Linked DNA regions of Homo sapiens: regions 1 and 3 are each linked to region 2. Evidence: fine-mapped expression QTL. A gene starts in region 2. Each other region holds a variant in brackets. All regions are shown on one strand. Distances are between the middles of the regions. Region 1 overlaps ATP2B3 (ATPase plasma membrane Ca2+ transporting 3). Region 2 holds the start of CCNQ (cyclin Q). Region 3 overlaps ZFP92 (ZFP92 zinc finger protein).

Region 1 (2,756 bases), 39 kb before region 2:
ATGGGATCAAATAATATGTGGCCTCTTGTGTCTGGCATCTCGCTTAGCACCGTGTTTTCAGGCTCACACACACCGTAGCATAGGGCAGGACTTTCTGCCTTTTCATGGCCTCATAACACTCCACGGCACAGACTGCCACATTATGTATGTCTGCCCTGATGGACACATGGCTCGTTCCCACTTTTTGGCTCTTGTGAATGGTGCTGCCAGGAGCATCTGTGTATGAGTTTCTGCGTGGGCTATGCGTCCCATGGGAACCCTTTCTCAACAGTCCCATTTTCCCCATTGGTGAGTGTCCAGATTTTCTTCACCCCGCCTTAGAAAGGGGGTGTTTAAATTGCCTGCTGATCAACTTGGTCTTTTCAAAACAATTTTTTAAATTGAGATAAAAAATCACATAACAAACTTCAACAGAACCATTTTAACCTTTTGAAAGTACATAACTCCGAGGTTTATATCCCTCCACTGTCTATTCCCAGAACATTCTCATCACCCCAAAAGGACACCCAGACCCCGTGAGCAGTCACTCTCTACTCCCCAAACCCCAGCCCCTGGCACCCACTCATCTGCTTTCTCTCTCTATGGATTTGTCAGTTCTGGAAGTTTCCTATGAATGGAATCAGACAGTACGTGGCCTTGTGTGTCTGGCTTCTGTGAGGCTGATTTTTAACGAACAACTCAGAGGAGCTGAGAAGGAAGGTCCAGTTCAGAGTTTCTGCCTCCTCCTGCCCCTGAGGTGCAGGAGACAAGGAGAGCAGCCCTCACTCTGTTGCCCCAAATGGCAGACCCCATCGTCGGGCTGTTTTGTGGTCTGGGGTTTTTCACCTCCTGCGAGGGATTTGGAGCACACCTGCTGCCAGGTGAGAGAAGGGAGGCGGGCACGTGACAGCCCAAAGAAAACGCCCCACTAGCGTAAAGGCGATGTAGGGATGGAGATGTCTGTTTTCATGGGCATGAAATCCTGGTGATGTGGACCCCATGAGGAGCCCCCAGGAGCTACTGGGTTTCCACCCCCAACCTTCCCGGGCAGGCGGCCCATGGAAAGGTGACTGCCTCCTCTCCATAGGACTCTCCTCTCAAAGCCGTGCAGATGTTGTGGGTGAACTTGATCATGGACACATTTGCCTCTCTGGCCCTGGCGACGGAGCCACCCACAGAGTCGCTGCTGCTGCGGAAGCCGTACGGCCGCGACAAGCCCCTCATCTCCCGCACCATGATGAAGAACATTCTGGGCCACGCCGTGTACCAGCTCGCCATCATCTTCACCCTGCTGTTTGTCGGTAGGCTGGCCAGGGGCACCCGGGAGGACTTCAGGACACTGTTGCCACCACCTCGGGCTCAGATTCTGTCTGGTGTGTCTCCACCTGTGTCTCCGCACCCAGTACGGGGTGGGACGCTGCACTTCCTGACTGGACAGCACACAGGGGAAGGAGCAGATGGGCCAGGCTAGCAACCCTGCAGCCAGGCCTGCTGGTGGCCTACAGCTCTTTCGCAAGCCTCTCCTCCCAGGCCGCTGAGCAGCTGAGAAACAGTTCATGTCTTGACATCCTGCCCACGGCTGTGTAGCTGTGTAGAGTAGGCAGCTTCTACCCAGCCCCAGAGTGGCCACGGTAACCCTAGGAACAGAACAGCCCACATTTACCCTGTGAAGATTGCTCCTGTGGAGTGACTGGGGTGCCGTGCTGGAAGCTGTGAGGTGGG[TG/T]GGGGGTGACCGCAAGAGAGAGGAAGAGGAGGAGGGCGTCCGAGGAAAGCCAGCCTTAAGAACTTCCCTTCTTAATCTCTTCCTTCCTGCCCTCAGGCTCAGGGTCTGGCCCCTGGCCCAGAGGGGTCTCAGGACTCTGGTTGGTTGAGCCTGGGGTGGGTGTGGCTGCCTTGGGCCTTGGCCGTGAGCTGGAAGTGGCCATCCCCTGGGACAAGGGACCCATCTCGGGAGCTACACACCGAAGTCTCGCTCCTGAGTAATGCGTCATGCGCTGAGATGACTGTGCCTGAGTGGGGAATGTTGCTTTCCAGGGGAGCTCTTCTTCGACATCGACAGCGGGAGGAATGCGCCCCTGCACTCGCCACCCTCAGAGCACTACACCATCATCTTCAACACGTTCGTCATGATGCAGCTCTTTAACGAGATCAACGCCCGCAAGATCCACGGCGAGAGGAACGTGTTCGACGGCATCTTCAGCAACCCCATCTTCTGCACCATCGTTTTGGGCACTTTCGGGATTCAGGTAGGAGGGGCGGCTCCACTCTTGGCCTCTGCCACTTGCAAAAAGTGGAGGTGGTGGGCTTCAAGACCCCTCGTCCACCCCTAGTACTGGCCTCCCCACCTCCACTCCCAGAAGGAGCCCCACCCCACCTGGCTTTCCTGTAGCCCCCGTCCTCTCTGCATGTCGGAGAGGGCCTTCTTCATCTTCCAAACATTGCCGGCCTTGCCCTGGGTGAGCGCGCTGGCTTCCAGAAGGGTTTCGTGAGCCCTCATCGGAACGAAGTTTTCTCACAGATGCTGGAAGGAGTCCTCCCTGGCTCCCTCTAGGTCTGCCATTCCCATTTCTAGCACTTAATTCCTTGGCATGAGGCTGCCATAACTCCAGAAGTTTCTTTTGGAGATGACCTCTGTGCCCAGTGCTGACACACTAACCTCTGCTTCCCACAGTGCTGTGGACAGGCTGGTCAGCCCCACTGTCTAGGAGGGGCTAAGTGTTCTAAAATATAGTGTATTTGTAGAAAAATTGAGGTATAGTAAGGCCAAAAGGTCAAGA
Region 2 (2,756 bases):
CCAGATAATCTAGGATGATCTCCCATCTTAAGGTCTCTAATCACATCTTCAAAATCTCTTTTGCTATATAAGATGACATTCACAGGTTCCAGGGATTAGGATAGGGACATCTTTGGGAAATCAATATTTAGCCTCCTACAAAGGACAAAGGATTGTGTAATACATTTTATAAAGAAGTCCCTCAGAAGGTCTAAACTTGTTATATAAAGACAATTCCTACCTGGGACCCCTCATTCCAGGAGATGCCAGATAAGGTGCTGTTACTGACATGACCTTCCAAGCTTTGTTTTACAGAGCAAACCCCAATTTACACGGACCCTCCGAGCAGACGGTAGCAGATGAGGTGTCACTGCCATCCTTCCCTAATAATAACTTTGCAACTCTTCTTGCAAATTACAGTAAATTTACATATCACTGGGATGAACAGTCCTGCAGCAGTCCTCAGACTCTCCGCCCACCTTGGGTAGAAAGCACATCTGCCCAACCCTTCTCCCCCAAGCAGTAAAGGTAGGAAATAACTACCCGCCAACTAACAGTATCTCCTATCAAGATACTGTTGATGGGCCGGACGAGGTAGCTCACGCCTGTAATCCCAGCACTTTGGGAGGGCGAGGCAACTGGATCACCTGAGGCCAGGAGTTCAAGACCAGCCTGGCCAACATGGTGAAACCCCGTCTCTACTAAAAATACAAACATTAGCCGGGTACGGTGGCACACACCTGTAATTCCAGCTACTCGGAAGCGTGAGGAAGGATAATTGCTTTAGTCCGGGAGACGGAGGTTGCAGTGAGCCGAGATCACGCCACTGCACTCCAGCCTGGCCAACAGAGCGAGACTCCGTCTCGAAAAAAAAAAAAATACTGTTGATGGCTGGATGGAAACGATGTTTCTACAGAGATCTTAGCTTAATCACCTCGCCTGGGAAGCGCGGAGCCCAACACTACTGTGGATGTCCTGGCAGGGTTCGGAACAGGAGCTGCAAGCAGCCTAGGTCCCCGGAGTGACAGGAACCCTCGGACAGCGTTCTCCAAAAGGCTCCGCGCGACTAAGCGCCATAAAGTCTACCGGAGTGCAGGGCCGCGGGTGCCGGCAGAAGGCGTGGCGCACTGCGCAGAGCTGCGGGCGCCCGGGCCGGTCTCCGCCTCGCTGGAGGCCCAACCCGGCCACGTCCTCTCCTAGGGCCTGCACACCGGTCCACGCCATGGGGATACCTCGCGGCTCACTGCTCAGCACACCGGGCGCGGCGCAAAGGCGGAGGTCCTCAGCCCCGAGCAGGGCTTCCCGGCCTCTGCTACGGTGAGCACTCCAGAAGGCCGGCCTGGCCAGCCGGGCCCGCTCCGCGAAGCGGGCCGCGGCGCCGCCTGTCCTGGCCTCCCCCGGCCGCGGTTACCTGCCTCCATGATGAACCTCGCCACTCGGAAGTGCACCCTGGCTTCGGGCGCCGGCTGCCCCTCCGGGCCCCGCGCTGCAGGCCCCCCTCCGCCGCCCTCCGGGGCTTCCATGAGGCGCCGCGGCACCGGCGGAAGGAGAGGCGGCCCCGGCGCGCAGAAGCCGGCAGAACTGGAGGTGCTCGCGGCGGGCGCTGCCGCCCCACCCGGCCGCGTCCGGCCCCGCCCCGCCCCGCCCCTCGCCGCCCCGCCCCGCCCCTCGCCGCCCCGCCCCGCCCCTCGCCGCCCCGCCGCTCCTCCGCCCCGCCCCGCCCCTCAGGGCCCTCGCCCAAGGGTGAGCGCGCGCTTGCGCCACAGACGCTGCCTGGCCGCGCGCGCAGGCGCAGGCGCAGGCGCAGAGGCCGACACCACGGGGCGGCTGGTATGTGTCCACCGGCCCCTAGGCGCCTCGAGCCCCGCCCCTGGGAGACGCAGGCTCCTCCCCGCGGAGCGAGAGCCCGCGGAGCTGCTCCGAGACCCGCGGGAGGGCACCTCCGGTCACCCGAGCCGCAAATCCCCGCCGTCCGAAGGGGGTGTCGCCCCGGGCTGTCGGCCCAGCGTGGCTTAGGCCAGGTACAACCGGCAGCGCCCGCCAAGCCCTGGGCTAGGGACGCCTGCGGGAGTTCACGGGGAGGCGCCGGTGTCTGAGGTCTGAGAAGACAGCGGCCACCGGAAAAGGTGCTAATGTTTGCAGACCCCGATCCATCGACACCCCAAGGAAATGCTGTGCACAAAATTCCAAGAGGGCCTTTTCGAATAGACGCATGAACGGTGTTTGTGTCTGGATCGTCCAGCCTCCCGGGATCGATTGGGAATCTAGCTTCTGCTTGCCTTTCCAGCGCGACGCACAGTAGGAGCCTAATAAATGTTTGCTGAATGAATGCTGAATATCGAACTCAGGTATTTACCATCTCATTTTTCATTCGCGTCTTCCACAAGCAGGAAATGGTGCATCAGGCTTTAGGGACATAGAACCCCAAAGGTACTCACTCCCAAGTTAGTGACAGTCACTGGAGTCATTCTGATACATTCAGATCATTGCTACAATTTCAGACAGCTGGCAATATGGAGAGGAAAAAGCTACTGCTCCCTAAACCCTTCTGCCCAGGCGCCTTGATCTCCTGATGGTGTGGAAGTCTCCACCTCTTACCCCCACCCCACACACCCAGTCCGGCCTCATTCTCCTTCCTCAGCACTTCCTGCCTCCACCAGCCTCCCCAAGTCCTCTCTCCATCCCAGCTGGGTTAGTTTCCTGGGGCTGCTGTAACAAATGACCACAAATTGGGTTGCTAAAAACAGCAGAAGTATATCCTCTCTCAATTCTGGAGG
Region 3 (2,756 bases), 170 kb before region 2:
CAATGGTGCCTTGAAATTGGGCTCCCTCCCTCTTGCTGTGTGGGGAACTGGGAGGGTATAGCCCAAGCTTGCTTTGTGATGGACAGCTAGAATGTAAAAGCTTAAACTATGGGGAAAGTCTTGCCTGTTTTCCAAGGCTTCCTCCACCCTGCCACCGAAGAACTTACCTGGATGCCAACCTGGGACCCCTTTGTCTTTGGGCTTTTGCCCTTTGAAACTGTGAATGCTTCAAGAGCCACATAAATGCTCTGGCAGTGTCTCCATGTAACTAGTAAATTGTCCTGGCTGGATTCGTTGTGAAATGGAACTGTCCCATTTACTTTGGTTGCAAATAAGGAAGATGTATGAGTATTGGCCTGGAAATGAGCCCTCTAGTGTAGAGAGGTTATTCTGAGGGTTTAAACTACATGGATAGGCCTTGGGTTCAAGGTTACAGGAAAGGCTGTAAGCCTGAGATTGTGGGGAATGGCCAGAGCTGGGCTTTGGGTGTTCCTTGTGGGGGTCCCTGTGAAGGTAAGACAGAAAGGCATTCTGGGTGAGCTGCCTCGGGTCAGCCCAGGGGTGCAGGCTCCTCTGACTGGGACCACAGGCAGCCACCCGAGGCCACTCAGATGCCGTGACTCTGAGACCAGAGGGAAGGGAGGCTGGGCCTGGTCCCCTGTGTTCCTCAGCAAAGTGCCACATCAGTCTCCTGAGAACACAGCTGTGTGTTCTTTCCAGTCGCTTCTGTTCCCAGACTTCAGGCAACATGGCAGCTCCCATACTTGCCAGGGTAGTTGGAAGGGCAGCTCTGGAGACAGGAAGTGGAGGTAGAAGCAAAGGAAGGGAGTCCTTGGCTGGGAAGTGCTTGGGTTCGGACAGACAGGGAAGAAGGGAAAGTATGAGGTGTGTTCAGGGAAGCTTAGAAGGGCAGAGAGGTTTCAGTAGGACATGTATGGGCTAAAGGGTCAGTTAGAACCAGAGTATGGAGAGTCTGGGATGCCATATACAAAAGTTTGGGCTCTAACAGTCTCCTGATGAGGAGCAATTTTCCAAAACATGAAAGAATTATTCTAAGAATGACAAAGGGAAGTTAATATAAATTATGACTACCACAGGGTTTGAATTTACACACTGACCACCACAAATTTTATAACTGTAGTCGTCTCGATGGTTGTGATGCCCATGAGGTGTTGGGCTGGGGGCATGATGACGCTGAGGCAACATGAGAGGGGACGTCTTTGACACCAGGGCCCCAGCCACGTGTCTCAGGGGCTCCCACTTGCCATGGGACTCGCAGCTGGTTCCATCCGATGCCAGCCCCAGTGCATCTATCACTGTCTTCACAAAACGGGGGTCCTCCAGGAGTTCTGGACAGCTGCTCTGCAGATTCTTATATACCTTTAATCGAAGGCCTTGGACTTTTGAGAGGAGCGCAGTGCCCTCCTTTTGTGTTCAGGAAGGCCAAATTAGAGCCTTCTCCACCGCCGGGGAATATTCATGTGGGAAATGGAGGCCTGCTGCAGACCTGAAGGTCAATGATTGTTTAATCTTTCTTTGACAGCATTATGAAGGTATAATGGGCATACAAGAAACTGCACGTCTTTAAAGTGTACAGTTGGAGGGTTTTTGGCATGTGTGGACACCCATGAAACCTCCCCCATAATC[A/G]AGACAGTGAATTGATCCGCCACTCCCAAAAGTGGCCTTGCGCCTCCAGCAACCCCTCTTTCCTGCTCCTCACTGTCCCCCATCCCCACCGCCACTGCTTGGCTTGCTGTCACTATAGATTAATTCCCATTTTCTAGAATTCCATAGAAATGGACTCATACAGTGTATGTCTGGCCTCTTTCACTCAGCACAATTCTTTTTTCATCAGGTGTTTTTGTGCATATCAGTACTCCATTTTTTTTTATTGTTGGTAGGATCCCATTGTATGGGTGGACCACAATACCTGTTGAATACCTGTTGATGGACATTTGGGTTGTTACCAGGTTTTGGCCATGACAAATAAAGCTGCTGTGAACATTTGTGTACCAGTTTCTGCGTGGACATATGTTTTCATTTCTCTTGGATATACGGCTAGGAGTGGAATTGTTGGGTCATGTGGTAACTCTGTGTTCAACTGTGCGAGGAACTACCAAGCTTTTCCATAGCAGCTGCACCATCTTATGTTCCCACCAGCAGTGTACAAGCGTTTTAGTTTCTCCATATGCTCACCAACCAATATAGTTTGGATCTGTGATCCCACCCAAATCTCATGTTGAATTGTAATCTCCAATGTTGGAGGTGGGGCCTGGTGGGAGGTTACTGGATCATGGGGGCAGGGTTCTCACGAATGGTTTAGTACCATCCTCTTGGTGTTGTCCTCATGATAGTGATTGAGTTCTCCCAAGAGATGGTCCTTTAAAGGCGTGTGGCACCTCCCCTTTCTCTCTCTTGCTCCTGCTCTGGCAGCGTGATGTGCCTGCTCCTGCTTTGCGTTCCACCATGAGTAAAAACCCCTGAGGCTTCCCCAGAAGCAGATGCTGCCATGCTTCCTGTACAGCCTGAAAAACCGTGAGCCAATTAAACCTCTTTTCTTCATAAATTACCCAATCTCAGGTATTTCTTCATAGTAATGCAAGAACAGACTAATACACTAACACTTGTTATTGTCTGTCTTTTCATTATAGCCATCCCAGTGGGTGTGGGGTGGTATTTCATTGTGGTTTTGATTTGCATTTCCCTGATAACTAATGATGTTGAGCATCTTTTCATGTGTCCTTTGGCCATTCATA

What was found. PIP is the estimated chance that this variant, and not a neighbour inherited with it, causes the effect.
Region 1: its variant is the best candidate, but not a certain one, in a credible set for the expression of CCNQ in whole blood (TOPMed, PIP 0.74).
Region 3: its variant is the best candidate, but not a certain one, in a credible set for the expression of CCNQ in fibroblasts (GTEx, PIP 0.51).

What each region holds. Positions count from the first base shown.
Region 1 is chrX:153,558,663-153,561,418 of GRCh38, forward strand. ATP2B3 (ATPase plasma membrane Ca2+ transporting 3) reads left to right here. Exons shown (of 22, transcript NM_001001344.3): 18 at 1,067-1,280; 19 at 2,014-2,225. Among named protein-coding and RNA genes, the nearest start is that of CCNQ, 39 kb to the right of the region's middle. RefSeq lists an enhancer at 1,727-2,511. The variant TG/T (reference allele first, on the strand shown) is at 1,702.
Region 2 is chrX:153,597,572-153,600,327 of GRCh38, forward strand. It overlaps CCNQ (cyclin Q), which reads right to left and starts at 1,568. Exons shown (of 5, transcript NM_152274.5): 1 at 1,391-1,568. The coding sequence starts at 1,502. LOC105373383 (a long non-coding RNA gene) reads left to right here and starts at 1,769. Exons shown (of 1, transcript NR_131982.1): 1 at 1,769-2,322. RefSeq lists silencers at 1,279-1,638, 1,649-1,698, 1,799-1,938.
Region 3 is chrX:153,424,467-153,427,222 of GRCh38, forward strand. ZFP92 (ZFP92 zinc finger protein) reads left to right here. Exons shown (of 6, transcript NM_001136273.2): 6 at 1-2,015. Among named protein-coding and RNA genes, the nearest start is that of ZFP92, 14 kb to the left of the region's middle. The variant A/G (reference allele first, on the strand shown) is at 1,648.